Homo sapiens: one gene and its partners. The protein of the gene in region 7 interacts with the protein of the main gene of each other region in a biochemical or structural test. Each region holds a gene or a part of one and is shown on either strand. Other genes may lie near its edges. The genes, in order: PATJ, GRIP2, ARHGEF11, PALS2, PDZK1, GRID2IP and CLDN2.

Region 1 (4,289 bases), on a different chromosome or scaffold from region 7:
CTTCTTGGGCTTTTTATGGAGACTTCATTGAGTAGACATAATTGAAGCATGGGGTAGGGAAACCCAGCAATGCCTATCTGTTCAGATTTTTCTTGGCCTCTCTCTGTAGCATTCCTTCCTCCAGGGTATGGGCAGGACCCCTTCTTATGGGGGTCTTATGACCTACAATCAGACAAGGGAGATCAGATAATTTTTTTAAATATTTATTTATTTATTTATTTTGAGACAGAGTCTTGCTCCGCTGCCCAGGCTGGAGTGCAGTGGGTGATCTCAGCTCACTGCAACCTCCACTTCCCGGGTTCAAGTGATTGTCCTGCCTCAGACTCCTGAGTAGCTGGGATTACAGACATGTGCCACCATACCTGGCTAATTTTTGTATTTTTAGTAGAGACAGGGTTTTACCATATTGGCCAGGCTGGTCTCGAACTCCTGACCTCAAGTGATCCACCTGTCTTGGCCTCCCAAAGTGCTGGGATTACAGGCGTGAGTCACTGCACCTAGCCAAAATTATTTTACTTTATTTTATTTTAATTAATTAATTTATTTATTTGGAGACGGAGTCTTGCTCTGTTGCCCAGGCTGGAGTGCAATGGCGCTGTCTTGGCTCACTACAACCTCTGCCTCCCAGGGTCAAGCGCTTCTCTTGCCTCAGCTTCCCAAGTAGCTGGGATTACAGGCGCCTGCCACCACACCTGTCTAATTTTTATATTTTTAGTAGAGATGGGGTTTCACCATGCTGGCCAGGCTGGTCTCGAACTCCTGACCTCAGGCGATCCACCCGCCTTGGACTCCCAAAGTGCTGGGATTACAGGCGTGAACCACCGGGCCTGGCAATTATTTTTTTTTTTAAAAATTTTTATTCATTTATTTTATTTATTTATTTTTGAGACAGAGCCTTACTCTGTTGCCCAGGCTGAAGTGCAGTGCCGCGATCTCCACCCACTGCAAACTTCACCTCCCTGGGTTCAAGCGATTGTCCTGGCTCAGCGTCACAACCTCAGGTGTGCGCCACCACCACTGGGTAATATATATATATATATTTTGTATTTTTAGTAGAGACAGGGTTTTGCCATGTTGGCCAGGCTGGTCTCGGACTCCTGACCTCAAGAGATCTGCCCGACTTGGCCTCCCAAAGTGCCAGGATTACGGATGTGAGCCATCACGCCTGGCCTCTTTTAAAAAATTTTTAGTAGAGACTGTGTCTCGTTATATTGCTCAGGCTGGTCTCGAACTCCTGGTCCAAGCCGTCCTCCCGATTTGGCCTGTGAAAGTGTTGGGCTTACAGGCGTGAGCCACCCTTCTGGCCCAGAGAATTTCTTTACAGCCACCTTCAAGATGGAAAAGCAGGGGAAGATTAGAGTCCTGCCTTGGGGAGAAAAAGGAGCGAATGAAAGGAGGGGCAGGAGAGTGTCAGAGATATTTCTGGGGACTGCTTCTGAGACTTAAAGCACCCCAACAGTATAATAAAAGACTGTAACAAGAGTTATGGGAGTTATAAACCAGGAATCATGGATGAAAACCAATATGCAATATCACAAGGTCACATAAAATGGGTTTCCCATCAGAAAAATAGTTGTGTTTGAAGCTGAATAGAAAATTAAGCTCTATTCTGCATTTAATGAAACCGTAATAAGTTTAAGCCATACATTAATATTTCTGTAACTATAAAGCTAACATATTCATTGTAGAAAAATTGGAGAAAATTTTCAAAAAAGAAACTAAAAGTACACAGACTACTATTGAGAGATAACCACTAATAACATTAGGATGTATTTTCTTTCAGATTGCATTTTTAAAGTTAAAGAGAAAAATCTGTATATATGTTCTCATAGTGAATTCACATTTAGAACCTTGTGATTCTGAGACAATGACTCAGCATTTTCTAGTTCTTACAATTGCATTTTTACTTAACAGCATTTAATAATTATCCTTACACTGAGGAGCCAGCAGGCTGAATTTACTTGCTTTGTTAAAGTTTAACAAGAATATATTAGGTTGGGGAAGCCAAAGTGGGATTTAATTTGTTCACTTAAGACTTTGCTCCCCTTGGTGAGCCAACTTGGTAAGTTTTTTGAGAAACGGGACCAATCTACCTTGGTATTTGCATGACCATTGCTATGTTTTCTTCCTTAGGGTTTTGTGTAGATTTGGATGCCTTTTTTAAAGCCCTTATTTTAGGTTCCGGTGCAAATGGGGAGAAATTTAGTGCCTGTCAATACCCTTCCTTTTAAGTCAGTGGGATAGATCGATGCTGAAGATGTAGAGCTCACTTATTTTTTGTGTTCGTACAGCTGTCCAGCCAGTAAAGTTTGGAGACAAGGAATTGGGTCCACCTACCATATAACGCTTGACAAGTCATTTAATTCTGGTCCTCCAGAATCTGGTCCCATTTGCAAATGGTCTGCCTTACAGAGATTTGGCGAGGTTGAAAGAAAAGAATGTTCAAGAATGTGTCTTGTAATCTGTAAGCTGTTATTCTCCTGCTTTTTGTTCCTCCCTTATGTTTAATTCCGGTAAAATTATGGAGTTGTGATCTTTTTATTGGGAAGAACTCAAGTTTGTGAGTGCTCTTACTCAGATAGTTACTTTAAGAAAAGGCATAGAGACCATATGAGCTGAACTGATGAAGTCTTTCCTAAAAACACGGTGGAGGAAGAAAAAACAAAACCAAACAGGGATCTTTCTGGAAAGGCATAGATTAAAACTTTACTACAGTAAGCCACTCTCACACGTGGGCATGGGCCACTTTATATTGGGTTAGTTAGGATTGAAATGTGCTGTAAATGCACAATACACACAAGATTTTGAACAGATTTCATGTAAAAAGGAATCTAAAATATCTTATTAATTTTTATTTTTTGAGACACAGTTTCACTCTGTTGCGAAGGCTGGAGCCGCCTCCTGGGTTCAAGTGATTCTCGTGCCTCAGTCTCCCAAGTAGCTGGGATTACAGGCGTGCGCCACCACACCCTGCTAATTTTTGCATTTTTAGTAGAGACGGGGTTTCACCATGTTGCTCAGGCTGGTCTCTAACTTCTGACCTCGTGATCCACCCGCCTCGGCCTCCCAAAGTGCTGGAATTACAAGTGTGAGCCACTGATCTGAATATGTTTATTCTTAAGAGGGTTTAGTTTACCAAAGCACTTACACTGCTATGTGTATACTGCCTTAATGCCTTTTTTTTTTTTTTTTTTTTTTTTTTTGAGACGAGTCTTGCTCTTTTGCCCATGCTGGAGTGCAGTGGCTTGATCTCCGCTCACTCCAACCTCTGCCTCCCAGGTTCAAGCCATTCTCCTGCCTCAGCCTCCTGAGTTGCTAGGACTGCAGGCATGCACCACCACGTCTGGCTAATTTTTTGTATTTTTAGTACAGACGGGGTTTCACCATGTTGGCCAGGCTGGTCTCGAACTCCTGACCTCAAGTGATACGCCCGCCTCAGCCTCCCAAAGTGCTGTGATTACAGGCGTGAGCCACTGCGCCTGGCCATGTAAATGGATTAATACTCCAAATTATAGGTCCTCTCTATAACCTCCTCCCTTATACTCACTACAGTGGTGAAACATTTTATTTTTCAGTCTTCTCAGAACTAACTTACTGATTACACACTAAAATCTCTGCTACAATAATTTAATTATTAGCTTTTGCAGTGCCATGATCATGGTTCACTAGCCCTGACCCCCTGGGCACAAGGGTTCCTCCCACCTCAGCCTGGACTACAGGCACGCACCGGCACGCACCACCACGCTCAGCTAGTTTTTGTTTTTGTAGAGATGGGGTTTTGCCATGTTTTAAATCATTTTGATTGAAAAGAGATGCTAATAGTAGTTATCATTTGTTGAATGTGTACCATGTGCTAGGCCAAATGCTCTAAATTATCCTCTTTAGTGTTTGCAGTATACATATGAAGTAATTTTTTTTTTCTTTTTTTTCTCCTGAGATGGAGTTGCCCAGGCTGCAGTGCTGTGGCACCATCTTGGCTCACTGCAACCTCCATCTCCTGGGTTCAAGCAATTCTTCTGCCTCAGCCTCCCAAGTAGCTGGGATTCAGGTGCCCGCCACCACGCCCAGCTATTTTTTTTTTTTTTTTAAACAGAGTTTTGCTCTTGTTGCATTTTTATTAGAGACAGGGGTTTCACCATGTTGGCCAGGCTGGTCTCGAACTCCTGACCTCGTGATCCACCCGCCTCAGCCTCTGAAAGTGCTGGGATTGCAGGCGTGAGCCACCACACCCAGCCATGAAGTAATTTTTATTAACTCTTTTTTACAAACAAGGGGACTGAGGTGTAGGG
Region 2 (4,831 bases), on a different chromosome or scaffold from region 7:
TAGAACCTGGATTATTCTAAAGGTGCCACTAGCGTTGGGCTGGCAGGAGCCAGTGTGGGGCGGCCCAGGAATTGTGGCTAAATTCCATGCTGGGGTCACTGTTCTGGAGGGAACCCACAAGAAACCTCGGGTCCCTAACTACCGGGCAGCCCTCTCCCACTAGCTGCAGGGCACATGGAAGAAATATGAGGCTCGTGTGTTCCCACGCGGTCAGGAACTCCATGGGAGCCAGGCCTTGTCTGTCTGGTTCTCTGTTGCCAGACGCACTGTGCAGTTGTACAGGTTGTTGACATCCACCATTCAGTGCCCTGTCACCATCACCCCACCCTTCTTGGTGTCTGACCCTCAGTTGGTGCCAGCACACACTGGTGGGATGGAGGGCAGGGGAAATTGGGTGCAGCCTGCCACCCCTTCTCACAGACAGGTAGAGGAGGAGCCTCAGGTGTCCATTAAGATCAGCCTGGTCAGTCCTGAGCCAATGTGGAGGAATCCCAGGAGTGTGCAAGGCTAAGGCCCAGCTGGGTCTGGGACGGGGCAGAGCCTGCCAGGTGTGGCTGGAGCCTGTGACCAACTGGCCCTGCCTATCAAGCCCAGAGGCGGGCAGATCCTCCACCCAGCTCACTTGGTCTTCACAAAAAGCTGGGTGGCCACTCCACGTGGCAGGCTGCCGGGTTCATCTTTCCTAAGTCCCATTTTACCGAGGGAAAACTGATACCTAGGAGAGGTAGTTGGAACATTGGTGGGAGGGCCCTGGAGGGTCTCCAAGCTCAAGGGTTTCTAAGCTGAGACCTACAGAGACGCCCTGGCATTGTTCATGCAGTCAAAGAGTCTGTGCTTCATCTAGCTTATGTCCTGGGGTTCTGTGCAAATTCTCTTGGAATCTGCCGTTTAGAAAAAAAAAAAGTTTGGAAAGCACTGTTCCCTGTCTCCAGATGAAAAAACTGATGCCTAGTGAGGGAAGAGTCGTTTGCCAAAGTCCCAGGGCAAGTTAGAAGCAGGCTCTCTCTCTGCCTGAGAGCCCTGGGGGAAGCCCCAGGCATGCCACCTTCAAAGACCCCCTGTCCAGACCCAGGCTGCAGGGGTGGGGCATGTTGGACCCTGTCCTGGAGCCAGCCTTGACAATAGCCATGTCCCCTTTAAGCAGAGAGCCGCCCGCTGCAGTGGGTGGACTCGGTGCCCAGCCAGTGGGAGCTGTGAGCTTCCCTCCCACAGCCCCTCCCTGGGGAGGGGAGGGAGGGCCAAGCAGCGTGGCTCCCGAGGGAGTTGGTGGGCAGCAGGGGAGACAATAGCGAACATGCTGTGTGGGCTCAGCCGGGAGACCCCTGGAGAGGCGGGTACGTAATGGGGGGTCTGTGGGCAGAGTGATGGGGCTGAACACATAGATCCCTCTGGAGCTGCTGCCCAGAGAGAGGGGACTGGATGGCTGAGACCTGGGACTGCCACTCCCTGGAGACCCAGGGCTTGGGGAGGGTGGGGCAGGACACTTGCTGGGGCTGTCTGTCTGACCCTGGCCACTGTCCTGTAGCAGGATGGCTGAGCCTCCCCCAGGGCTGTCCAGCACAGGCAGGCAGAACAGGCGGGTCTGGAGGTTCCGAGGGCAGTGCTCAGCCTTGTAGGGGGAAGGCTGGTCCTATCTGGGTGTGAGCGAAGCCTTTTGCCCAATCTCAGGATCTGCACAGCTGCCTGGTGGGAGTGAGTGTCCGACCCAGAGGGGTGAGAGCCCAAGGCCCATGGGCAAGGTGGTGGTGAGGAGTTCCTGTGCTGGCACAGCTGGGCAGGAGACTGGTTCTCGGCAGGAGGAGAAACTCTGGTTTGGGGGTCTGACTGGTGAGCCCCTGGGGCTCTGGGAATGTGTGGGATGGGGGATCACAGCTGCCACATTCCTGGGTGTGCTGAGGCTGGGACCCAGGGGAGGGGCAGACACGATTGTTCCATCTGTCTCTCCAGCCTCAGCCTGGGCTCACCCTATTCCTCCAAAGAGGGAGCTTGGGGCCTGGACCAGAACATACTGCATTCACTGCCCTGGGGTTGCCTCACTGGTTTCTTCCCACGCTCTTGACATATCTTTGCACCACAGCTCCAAGGGCAAGGACTGTGGTCCCAGTGGACAGAGGAGGAAACCAAGGCTCAGGGAGGGCAGTGGCCGAGCTGGGATTGACACCCCGATGACTTTTACTGCAGAGCCCCCAGCCCTGCTTCTGAGGGCCCAGTGGACTTTGATTCCCACCTCCCTTCCCATGGCAAGGAGCAGAGCCAGGTCACCTCTGGACCCAGCCTTAGCGACCCAGGAAAAATAACACTCATAATCATAATAGCTGGCTGTTGTCGAGAGCTTCCTCTGGGCCAGGCTCTTTTCTAAGCTTTCTGTGCATTTTCTCATTTAATCCTCATAACTACACTGCCACTTGGGTACTGTTATTCTCTCCATTTTGCAGTTGGGGAAACTGAGGCAGAGAGCTGCTAAGTGACTTGTTCAGGGTTATATAGCCAGAAGTGACAAAGCTGGGATTTGACCCGATGGGCCCACCCATCCTTGGCAACTGCACTGTAAATGGAGGCTCTGCCTTCTTGGCCTGGACACATCTGTTCTTTCAACCCAAGGCCCAGGTGAGTGGGGTCACCTTGGTCTGCTGTGGTCAGGGCCACAAAGGCAGCAGTGCCCTGGAGACCTTACCTGGGGCACTGCCAGGGAGGTGTCTCCCCCTCCTCATGGGCCTGTGACCTCCACCTCGGCCCAGGGTCAGCATCAACTGCCTGGGCCTTTGCCCAGTCTCCTCCCTGGCCTGGCCTCCACCCCTTTGCTGCCATGGGAGGAAGCTTGCCAAAACACAAATCTGCTCAGCTCCTAAGCCTTGCATTCAAGGCCCTTCCTGACCTCTCTGACATTTTCTCTCTCTGATGACTTACTTGACCTCTACCCTCACCACTGTAGCCTCCACCCTAGGTCTCCTCCCCAGGTCACAGAACCTCATGATCACACTTGCTTCAGTTTGCATCAGCACCAAGGCTCTTCTTCCAAAAAGTGTAAAGATGGAGCTTCAGGCACAGTGGGATCCAGATGCTCAATTAACATCATTAGGACTCTGGGTCTCTTCGTAGCTTGCTCTGCTTCACTTTAGTGAGCTTCATTTCCAGGCAGACTCTCTCCTCTCCTTGAGAGTTCCTGGCACCTTCAAACTTAAGGTCAACCAGCTCAGTCATCCCTAAGGAAAGAGAGCCTATTTCCAGTAGTTCCAGCAAATGCCCCAGAAACGGCTCTCATTGGTCCAACTTGTATCACATGCCCACCCCTGATGGATCGCTGAGCCTCTGATTGGCCAGGCCTGGTCATGTGACCTCCCCTGTTGCTGGTAAGGACAGCCATATACCTCCACATTTGGCACAGAAGACTGCAGCCCTGAGAAGTCAGCCCACTGGCAGTGTGCGTCAGTGAGTGCCCCGATTGGAGCTGGGCTCTGTGGACCAGGCAGCCCTATGCCCTTTCTCTGCTCCTGATGGACTCTGGGTGGGTCCCTTCTCAGGCCCCACACCCTGGGCATGTCGTCTCACTCCAGGGAGTCTTGCTTTCCTGTCACTAACCCCAGAGTTCTGGCAGGAAGGGACTGTGACCTATCTCCATTGGCCCAGGCTGGGGCACACAGTAGGCCTGAACACAGATTTTGGCAGGAAGTCCCTCTCCATGTTCACTCTCCTGCCTTGAGGACGGGAGGCCTGCTCTGACTCCGCAGCCACAAAGACATCTTTGTTCCAGGCCTGCTAGGTCTGAGCAGGCACTTGCTGCCATGCTGGGGGCAGGGAAGTCTCAGTGGGTGTGGGTGTACATGTGTGAAGGTCCCCCTGCTGTGCCCTGGGCTACCCACTCCTCCGAGGGGCCCTCACCAGGCCTACCCCTTGGCTCTGAGACTCCTCAGGCAGGCCTGGCCTCCTACTCCACAGCAGGGGCTGTGGCCATGGGGGATCCTTCGCCTGAGTTTGCGTCCTGGCTCTGTCTCTTCCTAGTCTCTGACCTTGAGAAACTCATTCCACCTCTTTGATTCTCATTCTCCTAATCTGTAAATGGGAATTGAATTAAAAAAATATTTGCTGAGCATGTACTACATGCCAGACAATGTGTGCGCTGCACACAGCAGTGAGCAGGCAGACAGAAGCCCGGCCCCCTGGAGCTGACATCCCAGTAAAAATAGTCGTAAATATTTAGATGGTGTTGATTGCCCAGAGGAACATGAAGCAGGGAGGGAGTGGAGAGGAGGTGTGGAGGTACAGGGTGCGTGTGTAAGTTCCAACAGGCGGATGGGGAAGGCCTCCCTGAGGAGGTGACATTTCTACAAGTTCCCGAAGGAGCTGAGACGGGAGTTTTGATGATGTCTGGGGAAGAGTTTTGTGGGCAGAGGGAACAGCCGATGCAAAGGCCCTAGGGGGATGTGAGTCTGGTGGGCCTTGGGTCGAAAGGACAGATGTGTCCAGGAAGGCTTCACCTCCCTTTAGAGTGCAGTTGCCAAGGTGGGGTGGGCCCATAGGGTCAAATCTCCGCTTTGTCACTTCTGGCTGTGTAACCAGGAACAAGTCACTTAGCATCTCCATGCCTCAGTTTTCCCAGCTGTAAAATGGGGAGAATAACAGTGCCCAAGTGGCAGTGTGGTTATGAGGATTAAGTGAGAAAATGCAGTGTGCTGGAGTGGAGCTGGCCAGGGCGAGCATCAGGAGGTGAAGTCAGGGGACCGGGGACTGACAGTTGTGGTGAGGACTTCTGCTTCTACTCTCCCTGAGCTAGACACAGTCTTCTTGTGACTGCAGGCAGCCGCCATTGGGAAACTGAATGGTTCTGTGGGTG
Region 3 (3,500 bases), on a different chromosome or scaffold from region 7:
GGAGGAGGCGGTGAGCCTTCCTGGGTTGATGTGAGACACTCCTGGGGGTTTGGATATCCTCATAGATAAAAATCTCAGGATTTGCCCAGCACATTACAGTTTCCTAAGTGCTTTCGTAGAACATATCTCATTTGAATCTCACAGTGGTTCTGTGTGAGGTAGACAGAAGCATCAGAGGTTATTATTCATGTTTCACAGAAGGGGAAACTGAGGCTCAGAGAGGCTACCTGGCTTGCCCAGTGCCATCTTGCCTGGCTAGTGGCAGAATCTGGACTCAAAGACTCAAACACAGGTCTTCTGAGTCTGAATCTGTAGCTCTTTCATTGCCCCATCATGTCTAACTAGGCTTCTGTACTGGTCCTGTAGAATGTGTGGGGCACCGTTTTCTCCTTTCTCTTTGGTAGTAGGGTAAAGTGCCCGTCAGCAGTCAAGGTCTTCCCTTCTACTTTTCTGTCTTGGGGCTCCTACCTTGGGGGTTCAGTCTTGGGGCTCATACCTGTAAGTCCTATAGTTAAAGCACTATTTTCTCTTGTAAGATAGTGCAGCTTTGCAGGGTAAGGGTATTCCTCACCTCCACCCTGCCTGATTCTCTTCCCCATTAAGAGTGGTAGGACTCAGATCCCCTTCAGACATCCCCAGCTAGCTGCACTGAATCTTACTCCCTTAACTGTAGGCTTATTCAATTGTAACTTTGGGCAACATCAGCCTCAAGACTCTATGGATTTTAAATAATTTACAGATTTAAATCACACTGAAAGGAATAATACGCTGCGGATTATGGAGTCTAGTATTCTTTCAGTTTATCAGTTTGCTGTGTAGAGAGCCTAGTGTAAGGTGCTATAGGAGAGTTTTAGAAAATTAAGGTGTACAGTACTTGCTCACAGAGAGAGCATGCAACTGGGGGACTGGGAAACACGTAAGACTCTTGAAGACCACATAAAGCAACACCAGACTGTAAGCCCCTCACAAGCAGGGACAGTTTGGTTTGCCTGTATGAAATCCTGTGTGCCTAGCTTAGTGTCTTGCATGAGGTGAGTACTCAAGAAATGTTTGACAAATGAATGTTAGAGTGAATGAACAGATCAGCAAGTACAAATTATTTCATTGCGGGTTGTTTCAACATTCACGTGTTAATTTCAAATGTAGTCAAATAAGGTCAATTAGAGAAGGTTTCCTAGGTAATGTGTATTTTCTAGAAAATAAATGACATAATAAAGGACTATGTATTTGGAAAGAGATTGTAGCTGAGAGTAAGAAAATTTTGGAATATTTACTTGGCAGTCTTTCATCTCCTGTAGCACCCTGTTCAAGAGTGACTCCTGGGTCCATAGAAAGCATAAAGTATTTGCAACTATTCTTTATCTTTCAGTGTTAATCAGTTGTTACTGAAAGATGGGCTAAAGTGTAGCTGTTCATGTCCCTTTCAGTTTTTGTCCATGGGCAACTTACTGCCCATTAATATATATTCCTTTCAAGAGTTTCTAAAAATGTGTTTGCTATTGCAAACAGAGATAATGATACTAAATTATTTTTACAGGAGTGGTCATGAGTTTTGCTAAGCCATCTATATCTGTTAGCCTGGTTCCCCCATGGCAAATGTTTTTGAGATGGACAGGAGGGTTAGGGGTTTGCATCCATGAAACATCTTTCCTCTGCCCAAAGTTAGTTCATGTGAGGATCAAACCAAAGTACTTTAAGCCAAGAGTTTGTGGTTTGAGTCCTGGCTTTCCCCTTAACTATGTGACCTTGGGGAAGTCACATGCCTCCTCTGGCTTCCTCATGTAAAGCAGTAGTAGTTCATTTCTATAAAGTACAATCCAGTTCTCAAACATTTTTATATGGTGTGTCATTTGAGGATTATAATGTTTGTTTCATCTCTCTCACAAGCCTATTGAAAGGAGCAAATCAAACGAGATAATGTATTTCAAATTGTTTTCTAAACTGTAAACTCTATATAAATTATAGATGGTAAATTCACAGATTTGATTTAGCTTCGTGCACAACTTTCTGAGCTAAGTATCCCAAAACAAAACAAGGTGACTGAAATCTTTATATCATTTTGAAGAATTTAAGCAGAGTGAACTGGCTTTATTGTTGTAGAAGTGCATGGGGTCAGGAGGAAGGAGTATTTTTCCAATAGATAGGGTACTAGAAGAATGTGAGAAGAGAAGGGTTACTGAATCTCCTTCCCAGGAACTCTGATGAATGAGAGAGACTTCATCTACCTTGGCTCACCTTAAATGTCTGTTAGTGATGGGGATAGAAAGGATTTGTTCTGTGATCTCCAGCCATTCCTTGTCTTAAAAGCGTATGACTTTCCTAATTCAAAATAAATCTAGACCCAGCAACTGTTCTCTGTCAGGGGTCTCTTCGCACCTTGGCTTCTGGTCTTTATTGACTCCTGGGACCAAGAAGTCCCCAGACATTTAGCTGAGTTTCTACCTAGATTAGAAGGTTGGCCTCCCAGAATGGAGACAGGGATCCAGAGCTACGTATGATAAGTCCCGGAAATGCTGAGTCTTTTCCAAAATGTACCCTTGTTCCCATCTAGGGGTGTGAGATGAGAGACACAATGGATTTGCAGCTGAAACATTTGGCAATTAATCACCATTATGAGAAGGAGCAGACTAAGCTTAACTTCAGATACTCAAAAACATTTCTGAAAGAGTGCCCTTTTATTAATGTATTTGTTTAGCTTTTTTAATAGACAAGAAATAAGAAAAATTAAATGACAATACGAGTTCATCAAAAATAAAAAGATTTTGTGAACAGCACATAGCTAATCTCCTAGTTAGTATAAAGGTAAAGGAGTTCTGGAAGCTCACAGCCTCTGTGGAATGGAGTTTAGAAACTCTAGTTTGTATAGTGTTTCTTGCTGCTTTAATGTTCTGATAATCTGATGTTTGTGAAAAGGCTTTGTTAACTGTTGAGTTCTATAAACGTAAGAGGAGTTATTTTAATCTATATTGACTGAATCTGTTTCACCTCTTCATAGTAGCATTGCCTTTAAAAATTCATTTTTATTGGTTTATTATTTTTTAAGCTTAACTCAAAGATATATCACGTGGCTTGGAAACTCTTTTTGCTGTGGATTGTGGTGTTCCTTCTTTTGTCAATCACTATATTGATAAAAGACCCAAGCATACACCTGCTAGTGGCATGCAAGATCACTCCTTTGCCCCATGGGGTAAACCGTACTGAAGAAGTTGCTGATCCTGGTCTCAAAAAGAAAAAAGTATAACTTCATAAAAAGTCATGTTAGATCTTTTGTGAAAGGAGGTTTGGAGTTCTGAGGAAAGAACACAACATCTGAGTTAGTAGACGTGGATGATGGAGCCAGCTTTGTTAGCAGCTGGGTGAATGACCTTGCAAAGGTGCTTACCTGCCCTCGACCTCAGTTTGCTTATTTGGAAAAATGAGGGAATTAGGCTAGCCAGCCTCTAAGATTTGATTCCTTTTAGCTATTACGTTCTTTCAGCCTCTGAAACCAGAATGCTTTG
Region 4 (4,289 bases), on a different chromosome or scaffold from region 7:
TCTCCATTCCCCTTTCTTCTACCCCAGTACTGGTAAAGTTGTTTATAAATCACCGAGATTTTCCGATACTTTGTATCCTTCACACAGCCCAGCACTTTGTTACCTACTTAGTAGCACTAAGTAAAGATTTAATTGAAGGAGCTTAGCTTATCACCTTTTTATAGACCCAGTTCATAATTCTTATGTTTTTGGAAGAAATCTTTTATAAAAAGTGATTTTCAATTTCATTTGATAAATCTACTTAGAATATTTATTAGAATAGGCAATAGAGCAATTTTTTATAAATCTTGGTTTATTGTATAGCATATTAATGGAACTTTTTCATAGTTGCTTTGTTCTGTAGGATATTATTAGATATTAGTTGGGTAGGATTAATATTTTTAAAAGATAGAATAGGGCAGCTGGAGATATGTGGGACTTTTAAAGAAAAATGTATGAGAAAGTGTGGGGAAAATGATTCTCTGAGCAGACTGGGGGCCATATGCTTAGGAAAGGAAAAGTGAAAGGTGAGGGATTCGTTTAGAGAAATTCTGTGGTGGAACTCAGAGGGGTACATGTTGGGAGAAGTTTTAACTTAGGAAAATACTAAGCTGATTTACTTAAATGCATATTTCAAGGATAAATACTTTATATTTTGTTCTGTAGGTCATTTTTACCATGAAGTGACTCTGGCAGGGATTCTTTACCTAAGTGGGCATCAGAATCCTTTGGAGCTATCCTACGCTAAAGGATTCTAATTTAGTAGGTCTGGTATGGGGCAGGAGCATGTTTATATTGTTAAAATCCCCAGGAGCCACCATTTGAGTGTAAAATAATACATCCTGTGGAATATTCCATTTTAATAATGAAATCATTCAACAAAGCTTTTGAGGTTGTATATAATTTAGGTAACTCTAATGCTGGAACTTGGTCTCTCACCAGGTCAATACTTCTGCACATACCTCATTGATCCCCATTGCTTTACTCTCTTGCATACTCTTCCCTCCTCTGCCTTCTTGTTTCTTTTCTACTAATGAATATTCAGGCATGGTTCTCCAAGGAAGCCATCATTAGGTGGCCTCATCCATAATTTATCTTTTCAGTACAGAACAAATTATAACACAGTGCTTATACAACTGGCAAGTACACTCATCACATGAGTAGATGATTTATGTGTTTTCGTTCACATGAGCCTTGAACAAATATACCCAGTTTTACTAGTTGAGCTTCCTTGTTTTTTCTTCTTGCTATCAAGAGGTTGGCGTTTAGTCATAGTTAATGCTGATGTAAACATTTGATAATATTATAGATACCACCATGTTTCAAGGTCTATGTTAAATGCTCTCCACACATTATCTCATCTGCTTGTTGCAGATTTTAAAATTATGTTTTTTAAGTCACTAAAATCTTTTTATGATTGTATTAGTTTTCTGTGACTGCTGTGACAAATTGCCACAGACTTAGTGGCTTATAAATAAATGTATTCTCTTACGATTCTGAAGGCCAGACATTTGAAATCAGTATAATTGGGCCAAAATCAAGGTGTCAACAGGGACATTTTTCCTCCAAAGAATCTAAGGGAGAACTTACTTGTTGCCTTTTCCAGTTTCTGGTGGCTTCTGGCATTCCTTGGCTTGCGGCTACACACTGCAGTCTTCAAGGCTGGCATTTGAAATCTTTCAGCTCTGTGTCTTTCATTTCCCCACGTGTGTGTGTGTGTGTGTGTGTGTGTGTGTGTGTGTGTGTGTGTGTCAGAGAGAAAGGGAAATCTCCCTCTGTGAAGGACACTTGTGAAGGCATTTAGTGCTCTCTGGAATAACCTCCCCATCACAAGATCTTTAATCACACCTGTGAAACTTTCCAAATGCGGTGACATTCATAGGTGTCAGGAATTAAGACATAGATATCTTGTGGAGGGGGAGACTATTATTCAGCCTACCATAATGGTAATTTAAATAGTTCAGAAAAGGGAGGAGGAGTTGATAAGTCTTTTTGTCCCATCTTCATCACTTTCTAAGTCAGTATTTCTCAATCAGGGATGATTTTGCTGAACAATCTCCAGGAATATTTGGCTGTCACAACTGGGAAGGTGTTGCTACTACTATGTATAAGGTATAGGTCAGGGATGCTGCAAACAGTGCACAGGGCAGCCCCCCTCAACAAGGAGTCATCCAGCCCAAAATGTCAGTAGTGATGAAGCCGAGAAACGTTATTCTAAAGGCAACTATTGCCAATAGCTTTTTTGGGGTATCCAGAAAAAATTTTGATGCCTCTATTACGAGTAAAAGCCTTTAATCTGATTTGATCAGAACGGGTGGTAGTTTTGGCTGACTGAAAGTGATTTAAGTGAAGAGTCATAAACGATTGACACATATCTTAAATAATATATTACTTAAAAATCTACATTCATGTGTCAGTCTTTTCTTTAAGTATGTGTCTTTTGCCAGGAACTCTGGGTCATCATTCTTATATAAGCCAATGCATTATCACTGATTACCAGCTTTGGAGTGAGAACTTAAAAGTTTGTGAAGCAGTCTGCATATAAGATCTAGATTTCTAATGTTTTATGACTCCTCAATTGTTTATACTTGTTTTACCCTTAATTTTACAGCAGTTTATCATTTTGTTTTGTTGTTTTGTCACTTGCTTTTTTGGGGTCTTCCCAAAGCATCAACTGATTTTCATATAAAGAATATAACTCCCATCATCTTGTATCAAATACAGCATATGATGCATATAAAGAAAATGAAATCCTATTTTGTAATAATGGCTTGCTAAGGAATTGGGAATACTAATTCTAGTCGCAGCTCATTTGAACAGCATCCAATCTGGTGATATGGTGAGGGCTAATGTCAGTTGTTTACAAATTCTTGAATGTTTCAGAACATTTTGTTTTAGTTCTGTAATGGCAGAGTTTATAAATAATCTATAGAATATTACTATAAATACTTTATTGGTATTACCAGCTTAGTGCTTGCGTTACTTTTCTAAAAGAAACATTGATTTTTTTTTCATTAACTGTAATAAATATTATTTGAAGTTTGAATGTGGCTATCTTTGAGTGGATTTGTCTTCTTTTTATTTACTAGAATATGTATGTCTATATGCACATAATAAAATGTTATATGGAAAACCTAACTTTAGTTACATAAATAAAAAATTATTTGCTTTTTTTATTCCTCTTTTAATATCCTTCTATCTTCTATCCTTGTATAAGGAGCTAGAAGGTATAAGAAACTCCAATAATTGGGTTTCTTATAAAGAGCTTTGATATAAGAAACTCAGATAATTGAGTAAAGAAGTTTAATTTATTAAAGTTGCTTATTTTTGAAATGATAGTCATGCTTTTTTTTTTTTTTTTTTTTTTTTTTGAGACAGAGTCTTGCTCTGTCACCCAGGCTGCTAGAGTGCAGTGGCGTGATCTCGGCTCACTGCAACCTCTGCCTCCCGGATTCAAGTGATTCTCCTGCCTCAGCTTCCTGAGTGGCTGGGATTACAGATGTGTGCCACCACGCCCAGCTAATTTTTGTATTTTTAGTAGAGAGGGTTTCACCATGTTGGCCAGGATGGTCCTGAACTCCTGACCTCGTGATCTGCCTGCCTTGGCCTCCCAAAGTGCTGGGATTACAAGCGTGAGCCACCGTGCCTGGAAATCATTCATATTTTTATACAAATCAATTTAAATGTTTTTTATTTTTTAGCTAGTAATCTTTTGGAATGGAGGTCAGTAAAAAAAAATGTAAGCCCTATTTTTAAAAGGTTGGACTATCTTGTGAGACAAAGTAGTCTCAGTTTGCCATCACCAACCAATCCTTAGCATTAAGCTCTTGAAAACAACTAGGTAGAGAAATTTTCCGTGAAGGAATTTAATGATCTTTATAAAGTTTTACTATTCACCCAATTAAAATGTTAGATTATCATTTTATGCTATTCAATTTGGAAATACCAGATACTATACAATTAGTTTCCATTCACCATTACTTTCTTGAAAGAAACTTTTCACGACTTTCAATAAGGTCCCCTGCCCCCAAATAAAGTGGTTATAAATCCTAGGAGGCATTTTTGAGGATATCTTATTCAGATCCTTTCTTTTTTTTTTTTTCCCATGCTAAATATTTATTTAATTTTTTTTTTTATTATACTTTAAGTTTTAGGGTACATGTGCACATTGTGCAGGTTAGTTACATATGTATACATGTGCCATGCTGGTGTGCTGCACCCACTAACTTGTCATCTAGCATTAGGTATATCTCCCAATGCTATCCCTCCCCTCTCCCCCGACCCCACCACAGTCCCCAGAGTGTGATATT
Region 5 (3,731 bases), on a different chromosome or scaffold from region 7:
TTCACTTTAAGAAGGCAATGACAAGGGTAACCAGGGAAGAGGTTTTGGAAGCCACCATGTGAGTATTTAGCTTGAGTAAGGCTTTGGAGAAGAGAGCATCTTCAAGAATTTGAAAGGCTATTACATGTAAGAAGGAGCACACTTTTTTTTTTTTTTTTTGAGACGTTGTCTTGCTCTGTCACCAGGCTGGAGTGCAGTGGTGCCATCTCAGCTCACTGCAATCTCCACCTCCCGGGTTCAAGCGATTCCCCTGCCTCAGCCTCCTGAGTAGCTGGAATTACAGGTGCGCACCACCATGCCCAGCTAATTTTTTGTATTTTAGTAGTTTTACCATGTTGGCCAGGATGGTCTCGATCTCCTGACCTTGTGATCCGCCCGCCTCGGCCTCCCAAAGTGCTGGGATTACAGGTATAAGCCAACACGCCCGGGCCACACATTTTTTTTAAGGTGTCCTATGGGGCACAACAGGACCAGAGAAGCCATAGGGAGCTAGCTTTTGGCTTAAGAACCAACTGAAGCTGCCAGAAATGATGAGTCATTTTGCAGTTGGTGGAAAGTCAAGCAGAAATCAGAGGCGGCTGCTGCAGCTGTTTGTTGTAAAGGGGATTCTGACCCCTCCTGATCTTATCATAGAATGATTTAATTGTAATTTTTCTGTTTTGGTTAATAGAGAACTTTGATCGAAAAAGAAGCCTGCCCTCATCATCTCCTTCCCCGCTCTCCAAAGTAAGCCCTGTAGGTTGGGGTGGAGGGTAGATCTTTGAGATACATCAGTGAGTAAAACACAACCCTCTAGCAGTCCCTGGCACATACTAGACACCCAATTATCTGAATGAAGCATGAATAAAATCTCATTTTTTTTTTTTGAGACAGAGTCTCCCGCTGTTGTCCAAGCTGGAGTGCAATGGTATGTTCTCAGCTCACTGGAACCTCTGCCTCCCAGGTTCAAGTGAGTCTCCTGCCTCAGTCTCTCAAGTAGCTGGGACTACAGGTGTGTGCTACCACACCTGGCTAATTTTTATATTTTTAGTAGAGAATGAGGTTTCACCATTTTGGCCAGGCTGGTCTCGAACTCCTGACCTCAAGTGATCCGCCCACCTTGTACTCCCAAAGTGCTGGGATTTCAGGCATGAGCCACCAAGCCCGGCCAAAATCTCAAGTGTTTTAATGTTATTGCACTTTGCCTCGAGATGAGCTGCGACTGTCAGATACAGTTGATTTGCTTGTTTGGGTAGTGTTATCAGACGTATTTTTGCATGTAATGAGTCACCTGATAATTTTCCATATTTTAAAGAGAAAGGCTCCATTGTGGAACTGTTGCAAGTATATGACTGAAAGGTCTGAAGTTAGTTGAACTGGGTAACTAGGAGGTTCTGTGCTGGTGGTATTCTCACTTAGAAAGGAAGGAGATGTGGTCTTGTGGTTAGTAAGACACATGATAACCAGAGGACTAAAAATCTAATTTTAGTCAGGCTGCTAAACAGTGCGATTTGAAGTAGAGCCCACACTGTGCTCACCTTCCATTGCTTGATTTCCTACTCATCACCTAACAAATGTTCCGGACACGTGTGGGCAGCCATTTAGCTGCTGATCCAGGATCACACCATACCCAGGTCCACCCTTCTAATTGTCTCAACTAAAACAGCCAGTTAGGCTTGTAATTCTATTACAAAAAAATCAATCCTGTTTCCTGTTCTATGCCTCTTCGGTATTCAAGATCATCATTTCTTTACATGGATGGTCTGGGAGTTGATATGAATTAGGAGTATTTAAAGATGTTGGAGAGTTTGGCATAATAGAAGTGACAGCTAATGCTTACAACAATACATAGCAAAATAAATAAGCACAGATCCCAGGTCTGGAAGGGGAGGGTATTGGCAAGCAGCAAAGGGTTGGAATTAACTTTTGTTACAATATGTGACCATATAACAGCTGTCACCCTCTCACCAATTATTCCTGTGTATATGGGTTGGTCTCTTCTAGTAGCTTTGAATCTTTGGATAGTGATAAAAATAGTGTTATATTAACATTCTCCAGAGAGACAGATCTAGTAGGATATAGATACAGGTATGAGAGGAGATTAATTAGGGGAATTGGCTTGTATGATTATGGAGGCTGAGAAGCCCCACGACAGGCTGTCTTCAAGCTTGAGACCCTGGGATGCCAGTAGTGTGGCTCCGTCCAAATCTGACTGAGCCACATTACTGGCATCACCCCTGATTGGCAGTCCTACTTGTTTGCTTCTGTGCATTTGGCCTGAGAATCTGGGGGGCTGCGGCTGTAGATCTTAGAGTCCAAAGGCCGGAGAACCAGGAATTCTGATGTCCAAGCACAGGAGAGGAAGAGGGTATCCCAGCTCTAGCAGACAGACTGACACCTTTGCCTTTTCTGTAGTTCACTCAGACTCGCATGCTAATCCCCTCTGGAACCACCTTCACAGACACACACCAAAATAATGCTTTGCCGGGCTTCTAGGTATTCCTTAATCCAGTCAAGTTGGCATCTAAAATTAACTATCACAAGTGTCTTGTGTTTTACTTTTTCTAATGTGTTTAAGGAGCTCTGAAGACCATCTTACCGAAAGGAAAAGCCAGAAGAATGTACTCTGCATGAGGTACCGGCTAGTCGGTCAGATATGTCATTTCCCAACAGGGAGATTATGTATAGCTTGTTCAGTGACTTGCTCACTATCATGAACTCACTCAAAAGAAACTAGCAATTTTTTAGACTTCTTTTGGGATCCTTGTACCGCATCCTATACTGCTTTTATGTTCATGTGTGCATTTGTGTACATGTATACACATATTACTCCATAACGAAGCACAGTCTTCTTTTATACCTTTCCTGGTTGGGGTAGTAGAGGAATTTTACAGCCTACAATCAGACACATCCAGAAGAAGAGTGGAATATGTATGATACCTTAAAAATCAGCACATTTAACAAAGTATAACTTACTCATGGTTACAACTAAGTTAATGTTTTTTCCCTTTATTTTTCAAAAGGCTCATTTTTCTCCATTTCTCTACTATCAAAGTCAAGAACTGCCCAATGGCTCTGTCAAGGAGGCTCCAGCTCCTACTCCCACTTCTCTGGAAGTCTCAAGTCCACCAGATACTACAGAGGAAGTAGATCATAAGCCTAAACTCTGCAGGCTGGCTAAAGGTGAAAATGGCTATGGCTTTCACTTAAATGCGATTCGGGGTCTGCCAGGCTCATTCATCAAAGAGGTATGGTAATCTGGTTCCAGCAGCCCAACAAACACAGCCACAATTAGGATAGTCTCAGCTTTTCCCACCCATTGATGGCTTAGTAGAGAGGTTCCATTGAAGGCACACACTGAGGGGTCTCACTTGGGTTCAGATAAATGTTGTCATGGTCCCACACCCTTTAGGTTAGCTACCAGTACATCATAAGCTCACGTTTGTTTGTTTCCCAAACATCTGTTCCAAACAGTGTGAGTTGACTGAACTCTAGTTGACAGTCACTATCAACCCTGATTGGCAGTCATATTTGTTTGCTTCTGTGCATTTGGCATAATGCCCCTTACCCTGTAGGGACTGATAAGAATCCCTAAAGCTTTCAAGTTGGGAGTGAAGAAGGGGGACCTATTTATCCCCCTTCATCCCAGAAGACATATGATGCTGAACCACTATTTATAATACCACTAATCATGTGAATATGGAAGTTATAGCCTTCATAAATATAAAAGCATTAGAACACCTTTCTCAACT
Region 6 (4,289 bases), on a different chromosome or scaffold from region 7:
GCTGAGCCAGCGCCTCCTGGGGTCAATCGAGACTCAAGACTTGGAACACTACTCGTGCAGAAGCCAGCAAGGTGGGACTGCAGCGGGGGCATGAAGGAGCTGTGAAGAGGCTAGAGCCAAGTAAGGGGCTACCGGAGGTGGCTCAGGGGTCTGGCTCTGTCATCAGGTCTCCTTGGAGAGCGGTGAGTTCACCAGGGCTGCCCTGGGCAGAGTGAGCTGGTGCTGAGAGAACTGCAACTGTGACAGCCTAGGGGCCAGACGCTGGACACGTGGCTGTGATGAATGGCATAGATGAGAGGTAACAGCCTGGGGCTGGGGCAGGGAGTGCGGACGGGGTGGCTGCCAAAGGGAGAGAACCCAAAGGGAGGGCAGGCAGGGGAATGAAGTCTTAGAACATGGCTGCAGGGCAGGGACACTGAGGATGGATTTGGGTTTGGCCACATGTGTGACCTGTGTCCCTGTGTCCACCTTTGGTAACCAATGGAAGAACCACGCTGTGGAGCAATACTTGAAGATCGGTCCAAGGCTGGCAGGAGTGAGGTCTCCAGGGGACCCAGGAGGTCCTTATTTGTGCCCTTGTCTCACTGAGGTATTTTTTTTTTTTTTTTTTTAGATAGGGTCTCACTCTGTACCCCAGGCTGGAGTGCAGTGGTGCCATCTTGGCTCACTGCAACCTCCACCTGTGGGAATCAAGTGATTCTCCCTCTTCAGCCTCCCGAGTAGCTGGGACCACAGGCATGCACCACCAGGTCTGGCTAACTTTTTGATTTTTTTGTAGAGACAAGATCTCACTATGTTGCCCAGACTTGTCTTGAACTCTTAGGCTCAAGCAGTCCTCCCGCCTCAGCCTCCCAAAGTGCTGGGATTACAGGCGTGAACCACCAAGCCTGGCCTCAATGGGCATCTTTATTAGCAACTTGGAAAGGGTCCCTGGAGATGTGGGCTGAGAAAGCAGGAGACAGAATTGGGACCCAGGAGATGGCAGTGGGGAAAAATCACAAGCATGCCTCTGCCCAGTGTGACTACATGTGAGAGTGAGCTATTGATCCCAAGAAGATGGAGTTGAGGATGATGGTGATCATGAGCACTGGGACGGGGCAGCCCTGGGAGCTGGAAGGAGCCCCTGCCATATTAAAAGGAGTATGATGTCCCAGTCAAAGGAGCTGAGAACCCTGTTCTCTCCTCTGAGCTGGTCAAGCCCCATTGGGGGTTCCATCTGGGAATGTCTCTTTGACAGGGACATGGACACTGGAGTGGGGGTTGGAAACCATGTTCTAAGAGAATGATCTGAAAAAAAAAAAAAGGGGTGGGGTGAACCTTGTTCATCTTGCAGATTGGTTGGTCTGTGGATAAGATTGCTCTGCCCGATTTTAAGGGCCAGAAAGAAAACAGGGCATGGGAATCCTGGGGAGACAAGATTTCAGAGCAAGACAAAGGATGGTTAAAATCGTCCAGTGAGGAAAGGAAGACCTTGACAGGTAGTGAGTTCCCCACCACTGAAGGTGTTCAAGCATACACTGCCAGTGTTGTGAGGGAGGAACTTCAAGCATCAAAGTGAAAGGGTGAAGGCTGGTGTGCAGGAGTTTGAACCAGCTGCTCTTTTAAAGGTTTAAGAGAACTTGTCTGGCCTCAAAAGTGATAGGTTTCAAGGATGGGTAGGGTGGCATTTCCAGGTGTCCCCAGTGTGTGTCTTTGGCTGAGGGACACAGATTGGCTTCAATGCCTGCAGTGGCCCCCAAGCGTGGGGACGTTCTTGGGCTGGGCCTCTACTCATCCTCTGCTTGGGGTAGGGAGGATGATGTTGGAAGATGCCTGGCCGATGGGTTTTCCTTCAGTGCTGCTGCCCAAGCCATCCTCCCCCAGTACAGAGCGCTGCTGGGTCCCAGGTCACCTACCTGACCCCAGATGGTGCCTTCTGAGTTCTCCACCTGTTCCCACCGCAAGCGCTTGACGCTCATGTGGCTGGTCTCACTGCGCCGGTGGCCCAGGCCCCGGGACAGCATGGGGGGTGCACAGGGCACGGGTGGGGGCAGGGGCGGTGGGGGTGGTGGAGGGACTGGGTGGCTGAGTTGGGTGAGGGGCTTGGCCAGCGCCTGAGCAGGGCCCCGGGAACCATCAGAGCTGCGGGAGCTGGGCTTAGCGTCATGGAAAGGCAGGGGTGGCGGTGGTGGGGGGCTGAGCGGGGGTGGGGGGATGTGGTCAGAGATGGAGGAGTAGGTCAGGGAGCTGCCTTCTTCACTGCTGCTGATGCAGTCGCTGGCGCTGCTCCGCTCATTGGTTACGAAGCTGCCCTGGTCATCATGGAAGCTCATCTGGTGGTGGGGAGAGAGGCAAGGGGAGGGTGAGGCTGGGCCCAGAGAGACTAGAGCAGGTGCAAAGTGAAGGATCATGGGATAGCCTGGGACAAGGACAGGGCCATCTCACGGGTTAGCCTCAGGCTGTGAGGGACACCTGGGCTAAGGATAGGACTGTCTCACAGGTTAACCTCAGGCTGTGAGGGGGATAGCCTGGGCTAAGGATAGGACCCTCTCATGGGTAAGCCTCAGGCTGTGAGGGGGATAGCCTGGAATAAGGACAGGACCCTGTCACGGGTTAGCCTCAGGCTGTGAGTGGGATAGCCTGAGCTAAGGAATGGGCTAACCTGCGACAGGGAATATGGGCTAGCCTCAGTCAAGGAGCATGATAACCTTGAACAGGAGATAGGGTAACCTGGGGCAAGGGGTGGGATAGCTTGAGCTAGGGAGTGGGATAGCCTGGGGAAGATCCCAAGGGCAGCAGGCCCCTTGCGGGAGCCCAGGAACACTGTTGCCTTGCAGACCGCCACACCTCGCCTCACCCGCCTCCCTCCACACCTGCTTGCGTGCCCACCTCCTCGTAGTCGTTCTCCGGGGTCAGGAAATCATCCACGATGGTGACCCGGGGGCCCAGCTGCTCGCTCAGCACGTCCAGGAAGCGGTCAGTATCGCGGCTTCGCACAGGGTGGGAGAAGGTGAAGAGCTTCCTGCGGCTGGGCGGGCGGGTGGGGTCCGGGCTTGGGGGGCTGTCGGGGCAGATGGGCCCGGGGCCTGGCTGTGGGGAGGGTGCCCTGCTGCTGTCCAGGCTGGCGTAGGGGTGGGACTCAGAGCTGCTGGGGGAGGCCAGACCCCCCGAACACAGCGGGTGGTAGCAGGGGGAGGGCAAGAGTCGCTCGCTGGGCCATGAGACGCCGGACAGGGTCCTGGGCCCTGGAGGAGGGATGGAGTATGAGGATTCCTCTTCAGCCAGCACCGAGGTTCCAGGTGCAAGCTGGAGAGAGGGTCCTAGGACAGACTGGCTCTGTGTCCCAGGCCACTCTCCTTTCCCTCTCTGGGCACAGTGCAGGAAGACCTTGAGCGGCCCTGCCTTCCAAGCATGACTAAAGGCCAGATCTGGTGAGCAGGAGCACTGCTCGGCCTCAGGACAGGCTGGACGCCAGCTCACCTTGGAATGGTCACCAGGGGTCCCAGCTGGGAGCCACTGAACACCATTAACTCAAAGGGTGGAGGGGTTTCTCTAGGGCCCAGAGCCACAGTCATGGAGCGTCTCGCGCACCCAGCAAGCCCTGAGATCACAGGAGGGCCTCCCAGGGCTCCTGCCTTCTGAGCTGCAGAGCAACTGTCTTCCCAGCTGTGCCAACGCTGGTACAACGCGTTGCACTTGATCATTTATCCAATAACCACTTGCTAACTCGGGGACTTCCTCAGAATCAGGCATCTGCCTTCTTTCTTTTTCTTTTTTAAGACAGGGTCTTACTCTGTTGCTTATAGGCTAGAGTGCAGTGGTTCGAAATAGCTCACTGCAGCCTTGAACTCCTGGGCTCAAGTGATCCTCCCGCCTCAGCCTCTTGAGGAGTTGGGACTACAGGCATATGCAACCATGCCCAGCTAATTTTGTATTTTTTTTGTTAGAGATGGGGCCTCACTATGTTGCCAGGCTGGTCTCAAACTCCTGGGCTCCATTGATCCTCCTGCCTCGGCCTCCCAAAGTGCTGGGATTACAGGCACGACCCACGGTACCCAGGCTACTTTCTTGATCCACAGCTGAGGTGAGGGTCACAGGGCCATGGGAGGGACTGGGACAACCCTGACCCTGATGGAGCAGAGAAGCAGCTCCAGGGCTGAGCCTGGGGTGGAGGGAAACACCCAGACAGTAGATGACAGAGGCTGGAGCCCTACCTGTGGTGACTGCTGGGCTGGGGCCTGGAGGGGAAGCCCGGGATTTGGACACGGTCCCCATCTTCCCTTTGAAGCTGCTGTTCAGTCGAGACTCAA
Region 7 (5,088 bases):
TTTCACCTCTTGTTGACATATAATTAATTATAATGTACCATCAGGTCTGCCTTCAAAAATAGACTGTGAATCCATCTACTTCTTTCTGTCGCCACTGCCCTAAACCATAGTTCAGACTATGCAACCATCGTTTCTTGTCTATTTGAAAATCTCATAGACACCTCAAATTGATCTCTCTAATTCCACTTCTGCCCCAATCCTGCAATAATGAATTACCTACCCAGTAGTCAAAGATCTTTGTAAAGTTGAAATCAAATTGTGACTTTCACCTCACGCTTTGCCATGCTTAAAAATCTTCAGGAGCTCAGCCGGGTGCGGTGGCTTACGCCTATAATCCCAGCACTTTGGGAGGCCGAGGCGGGCAGATCACGAGGTCAGGAGTTTGAGACCAGCCTGGCCAACATAGTGAAACCCCGTCTCTACGAAAAATACAAAAATTAGTTGGGCGTGGTGGCATGTGCCTGTAATCCCAGCTACTAGGGAGGCTGAGGCAGGAGAATCGCTGGAACCGGGAGGTGGAGGTTGCAGTGAGCCGAGATTGTGCCACTGCACTCCAGCCTGAGCGATAGAGCAAAACTTTGTCTCAAAAAAAAAAAAAAAAAAAAATCTTCAGAGCTCTTAAGTATTTCAGGATGAAGTTCAAACTTGCTAGCCCAGGAAACCAAGAAAGCCCTCCATTATTTCACCCCGGCTTTTCTTCACAGCCTCATCTCACACCATTAACCTCCAACCTCATGCTTTATGCTCCTATACATACACATATGATCCAGCCAAACCTAAGCACTTGAATTTCTCTGACTGCCTTTCTCTCTGTCTCCAAGCCCGTAAGCATGCTATTCTACCATCCACCATTTGCTTGGATAATTGCAAATCATCTTTGAGGATGCATCCTTGCCTTGAAACCATCCTTGGGCCCTCCCTGCTCCTCACCCAGGCTGGGTTCAATACTTTTCCTTTCTTCCTCCTATTTGTATCTGAGCTTTCAGTGAGAATTGGTGAGATACCTTGAGGTTTTCAAGGGGAAGACCTACTGCTTCCCAGAGGAGCAGCTCCTGCTTCAGCCTTCCTGGGATGGCAGCTGAAGAGTCAAGCTTGAGTTTCCCAAGGGAATCAACAGTGTCCCCAAGAGGAAAGCCTCTCCCCAGAGCCTGTCCTAAGTAGTAGTAAGTAGGCAAGTGTTTTGGGGTGAGGGAGAGGGCAGAGTCAAGAAAATGCCATTACTGAGGCTTGGAATCTCTAGAGTCTGACTTGGCATAGCAGCATGCCCAGGCAGGAGGAAGAACAAGTTATTGGAGCTTATTCAAGTGATAGAAATGGCCCCATGGAGGGGGGGTTCAGCTTTCCACCAGAGTTAGGAAGACCAGCTAAATGGCGAATGGTTGGGTGGTGAGACAGGCTGGATTCAGCCAGGTTTTTGTTTGTCTGATGAGCAGTAGAGGTGAGGGCAGACAGGGTCCTGGTGTTAGAATCAAAAGATCTAGCTTCTTGTTGTGTCAGTTCTGCCTAGAACCTGCTGAGGAAGTCCTATAGCTTCTCTAGGCCCTAGTTTGTCATCTCCAAGATTTTTAGTCTCAAATAAAGGCATGGGGACAGGAAGCCACTTTGACAAATATAGAAGACTGAAGAGCTGTTATTAGAAGCAGCCAGTTTTAATAGAAGCCTCTCTTTGAGGGATCCTCCTAGAAGTCAAGTACTGGCTGCGTTGGAGGTACAGAGGACTCTAGGCCTTGTCAGCTGAATTTGTCTTCTGGGCATAGGGCCAACATACTCCATGGCCCAAGGACTGGGCAAGAAAGTTTAACTTAGGATCCTTACTTAATCTTCCCTAGTGGGGAGATTGGAGCTGCAGGAGAGGATTAGGAGGGTCAAGATTGACCGCAGCTCCTGACTTAACCCCTTCTCACCTAGGTACTTTCCCTGCTATTCTCCCCATCTCTTGCTCCAAGAGTCTTGTGCATGGTACTCTTTCTTTGGCAGTACCCTCCTAAGACTACATGGGACAGGGCACTTGGGGTTCCCAGGCTCAAGGAAGGAACTGATGTGGCCTTCTGGGGGTGATGATGGCCACCACAGCCCTCTTCTGTCAGTCAGCCTCATTTCTATATCCCTTGATCTCACTGCCCCTCATAAGAATCTGAGACACTTGCCCCCTTCTCTGAAACTCACTTCCAGCTGCCAAGGGCACTAGTAGGTGGCAAAGCCATTCCCTTGAGGCCCTACTTTCTTGAAAGTTTGTCCTTAGAGCAGTTCATCTTTCCTTCTACATCAATTGATTGATGGCAGTTCAGAGAATTGCAACTGGATTGAGAGATTTTCTTATTGTTTGAAAAAGAAGTTGATTTTTGTCCTGATCATCAAAGTAAAGCATTCTCACTTTAGAACACTGGAAAACACAGAAAGGCAGAATTTAGAAAACAAAAATCGCCTACGATCTCCCCGGCCATAAGTGCTGTGAATGTTTTGGTTCCAACTGCATTTTCAAAGAGGGCACTTGAAGAGAGTAATACCTCAGTCGAAAGAAGGAATTTCTAATGACAGACTTGCAGACCAGTGAGGGAGAGTCCTTGAAGGACCTCATGGGGAAACTTTATGACTTCACTTAGGAACCCACCTTCTGCTACCTCCCTGAGCCTTCATGCCAAGGAGGGCACTGGAGCTGGCTGTGAGGGAGTGCCCCTTCTGCCACTCCTCAGTCCCCTACACTTAGGCAGAGGGGTAAACTGTGGCTCCCTTCCTCCAATTTTTATCCCAGTCCTTTTAAGCCCCCAAACCAGAAAATATCTGATTTGGAGAGTGCTTTCTCTGGTCCTGAAGTTTTAAAGATTTGAACCTTTGTGATAGCTTTGAGGGAACAAATACCACCAACCCAAATGCCACCGGAGTTTCCCCTCCCATACCCTTCACTCAGAAACCCAAGGTGGCCCAGCCTGGCTCCACCATGGGGTGAATGGATAGTGACTAGGAAGGAAGAGTGCCCACCTCGGTGAATTTAAAAGGCAGCAACTATATCAGGATGGAGATACTTACAGGGCAGTTCTTTGCAGAGCCTTGGAGGGGGAGATGCCCCTGGAGAGGGAGAAAGGGATCCTGAGGGAGGGGAGCGAAGTACAAGGGGCCACGGGCTGAGGTGATAAAGGATTTCTAATCGTTAACCACAGCTTTGCAAAATCCATCTGCAAATCTGAGCCGTGGGTCAGAGACTTATTACAGATCAGAATTAAACCCCTGGAGGCTGGGAAAGATTGAGGCACTTTAGAAAAAAAAAAAAAAAGGTTTGGTGGGTTTTCTGTGTGTGTTTTTTTTTTTCTGTCAAAAACTCCACTCCAGCTGGGCTTTTGTGTGGTGACCTCTGTGAACCCAGGAGAGGCCTTGTGGGGAGGGGGATTTGGCCCAAGAAGGAATTCAGAACATTCCAGCTTTGAGGGTGGTGAGAGGAGGGGGCTCTGTCCCACCAATTAGGTGTCCCTGGCTAGCAGCCCTGAAGCCCAGCAGGGAGTAAGCTGCATAAACACAGCCCTGGTGAGCCAGTGCCCAAGCAGCCCTGCATGGCCTGCAGCTCCATAGACTTTTCTACTCAGCTTGATTCTCTGGCAGGCCCTCAGCCCTACCCCACCCCTAAGGTTGGTCCCAAGGCTCAAGGGCAAACATGGGTACTGTAGGTTCAGACTCTGAGTTCAAAGAGCAGGTCCTACAAGGTGGAACTGAGTAGGCCAGCATAAGGACAGGGCTCTCCTTTTTACCACACATGGCAGTGCCATGCACTATGTCATTTAAGCCTCTCAAAAGTGCTGTGAAGGCCGTGTGCAGTGGCTCACGCCTGTAATCCCAGCACTTTGGGAGGCCGAGGCGGGTGGATCACCTGAGGTCAGGAGTTCGAAAACAGCCTGGCCAACGCGGTTAAACCTTGTCTCTACTAAAAATACAAAAATTAGCTGGATGTGGTGGTGCGCACCTGTAGTCCCAGCTACACGGGAAGCTGAGGCAGGAGAATCACTTGGACCCAGGAGGCGGAGGTTGCAATGAGCCGAGATCATACCACTGCACTCCAGCCTGGGTGACAGAGTGAGACTCCATCTCAAAAAAGCAAAGCAAACAAACAAAAACCCAAACAACAACAGAAATAAAACCAAACCAAAACAAACAAACAAAAAAACATGCTGTGGAGTAGTAGAGCGCAGTGACTGGCTTTACTCTCCCAACGCAAAAAAGCTTTCTAGTTTTTTCTAAGTAGAAAAATACTAGATGCTATTGAAAAGAATTCAGAAAATGAATTATAAAGAAGAAAATAGAGGTCCTCATAATGCCACCAGCCAGAAATAATCATTGCTAACATTTTGATGTATTGTAGAAGATATCGATGGGATTTGTTTTATAAAATTGAATCACACTATACCTACAGTTTATGTAACCTTACATCATTTGTAAATAACATATCGTGGACCTATTTCCATGTCAATTAAAACACAGAACTACATCATTCTGTCATGGCTGCACTGCATTCTATCATATAAAATATGATTTATTTAATCGTAAACTACTAGACGTTTTGTTATTTTCATTTTCACTATAACCCAGCATCTTTGCACATAATACTGACAAAGTCTTAAGAATAGAATTGCTAGGTGAAAGAGTGTGCATGTTTTAAAGGCCAATACAACATGTTACAAAAATAAGACAGCCATTACTATTTCCAGATGAGGAAACCTCGGCCCAATGAGATGAAAAGAGTTGCCCAACATCCCAAGTTGAGCAGTAATAGTTAGACTTGGAATCTAGGTCTGTAGATATCTAGCTTGGCAAACTTTGCAGTGTACAACACCAACTCCCTCCCAAGGATTCCCATGTACAAATGATAAGGCCACGGTTCATTGAACACTTGCTAGGTGCCAGGCACTGTGCTGAGGTGTTTCCTATCCATGGTCTCACTGTGCTAGTACAGAGCAAGGCCTGGGTACCAAACCTGGCCACCTCTAGAGCTTGCCTCATAGTCATTATGCTTGACTCTATTTTTCAAGTCATATCAAAGCAAACAGTCGGATTTGTTGCCTAGGGTGAACTCAGTGAAGCAAACCAGAAATCATCCTCCTT

What was found.
Region 1: the proteins of CLDN2 (region 7) and PATJ interact in a test that uses a peptide from one of them, tested with the Homo sapiens proteins (one large-scale study listed by IntAct).
Region 2: the proteins of CLDN2 (region 7) and GRIP2 interact in a test that uses a peptide from one of them, tested with the Homo sapiens proteins (one large-scale study listed by IntAct).
Region 3: the proteins of CLDN2 (region 7) and ARHGEF11 interact in a test that uses a peptide from one of them, tested with the Homo sapiens proteins (one large-scale study listed by IntAct).
Region 4: the proteins of CLDN2 (region 7) and PALS2 interact in a test that uses a peptide from one of them, tested with the Homo sapiens proteins (one large-scale study listed by IntAct).
Region 5: the proteins of CLDN2 (region 7) and PDZK1 interact in a test that uses a peptide from one of them, tested with the Homo sapiens proteins (one large-scale study listed by IntAct).
Region 6: the proteins of CLDN2 (region 7) and GRID2IP interact in a test that uses a peptide from one of them, tested with the Homo sapiens proteins (one large-scale study listed by IntAct).

What each region holds. Positions count from the first base shown.
Region 1 is NC_000001.11:61,745,071-61,749,359, forward strand, and holds part of PATJ (inaD-like protein), read left to right. Parts: intron 1-2,028; exon of another isoform or gene 2,029-2,062; intron 2,063-4,289.
Region 2 is NC_000003.12:14,536,772-14,541,602, reverse strand, and holds the start of GRIP2 (glutamate receptor-interacting protein 2), read left to right. Parts: upstream 1-1,260; 5' UTR 1,261-1,294; coding exon 1,295-1,334; intron 1,335-4,831.
Region 3 is NC_000001.11:157,039,243-157,042,742, reverse strand, and holds part of ARHGEF11 (rho guanine nucleotide exchange factor 11), read left to right. Parts: intron 1-3,500. UniProt on the Homo sapiens protein: May play a role in the regulation of RhoA GTPase by guanine nucleotide-binding alpha-12 (GNA12) and alpha-13 (GNA13). Acts as guanine nucleotide exchange factor (GEF) for RhoA GTPase and may act as GTPase-activating protein (GAP) for GNA12 and GNA13.
Region 4 is NC_000007.14:24,579,560-24,583,848, forward strand, and holds part of PALS2 (protein PALS2), read left to right. Parts: intron 1-4,289.
Region 5 is NC_000001.11:145,673,153-145,676,883, reverse strand, and holds part of PDZK1 (Na(+)/H(+) exchange regulatory cofactor NHE-RF3), read left to right. Parts: intron 1-670; coding exon of another isoform or gene 671-726; intron 727-2,557; coding exon of another isoform or gene 2,558-2,614; intron 2,615-3,002; coding exon 3,003-3,227; intron 3,228-3,731. UniProt on the Homo sapiens protein: A scaffold protein that connects plasma membrane proteins and regulatory components, regulating their surface expression in epithelial cells apical domains.
Region 6 is NC_000007.14:6,506,090-6,510,378, forward strand, and holds part of GRID2IP (delphilin), read right to left. Parts: coding exon 4,194-4,289; intron 4,064-4,193; exon of another isoform or gene 3,927-4,063; intron 3,225-3,926; coding exon 2,869-3,224; exon of another isoform or gene 2,817-2,868; intron 2,313-2,816; coding exon 1,896-2,312; intron 299-1,895; exon of another isoform or gene 1-298.
Region 7 is NC_000023.11:106,918,491-106,923,578, reverse strand, and holds the start of CLDN2 (claudin-2), read right to left. Parts: upstream 3,178-5,088; 5' UTR 3,028-3,177; intron 1-3,027. UniProt on the Homo sapiens protein: Forms paracellular channels: polymerizes in tight junction strands with cation- and water-selective channels through the strands, conveying epithelial permeability in a process known as paracellular tight junction permeability.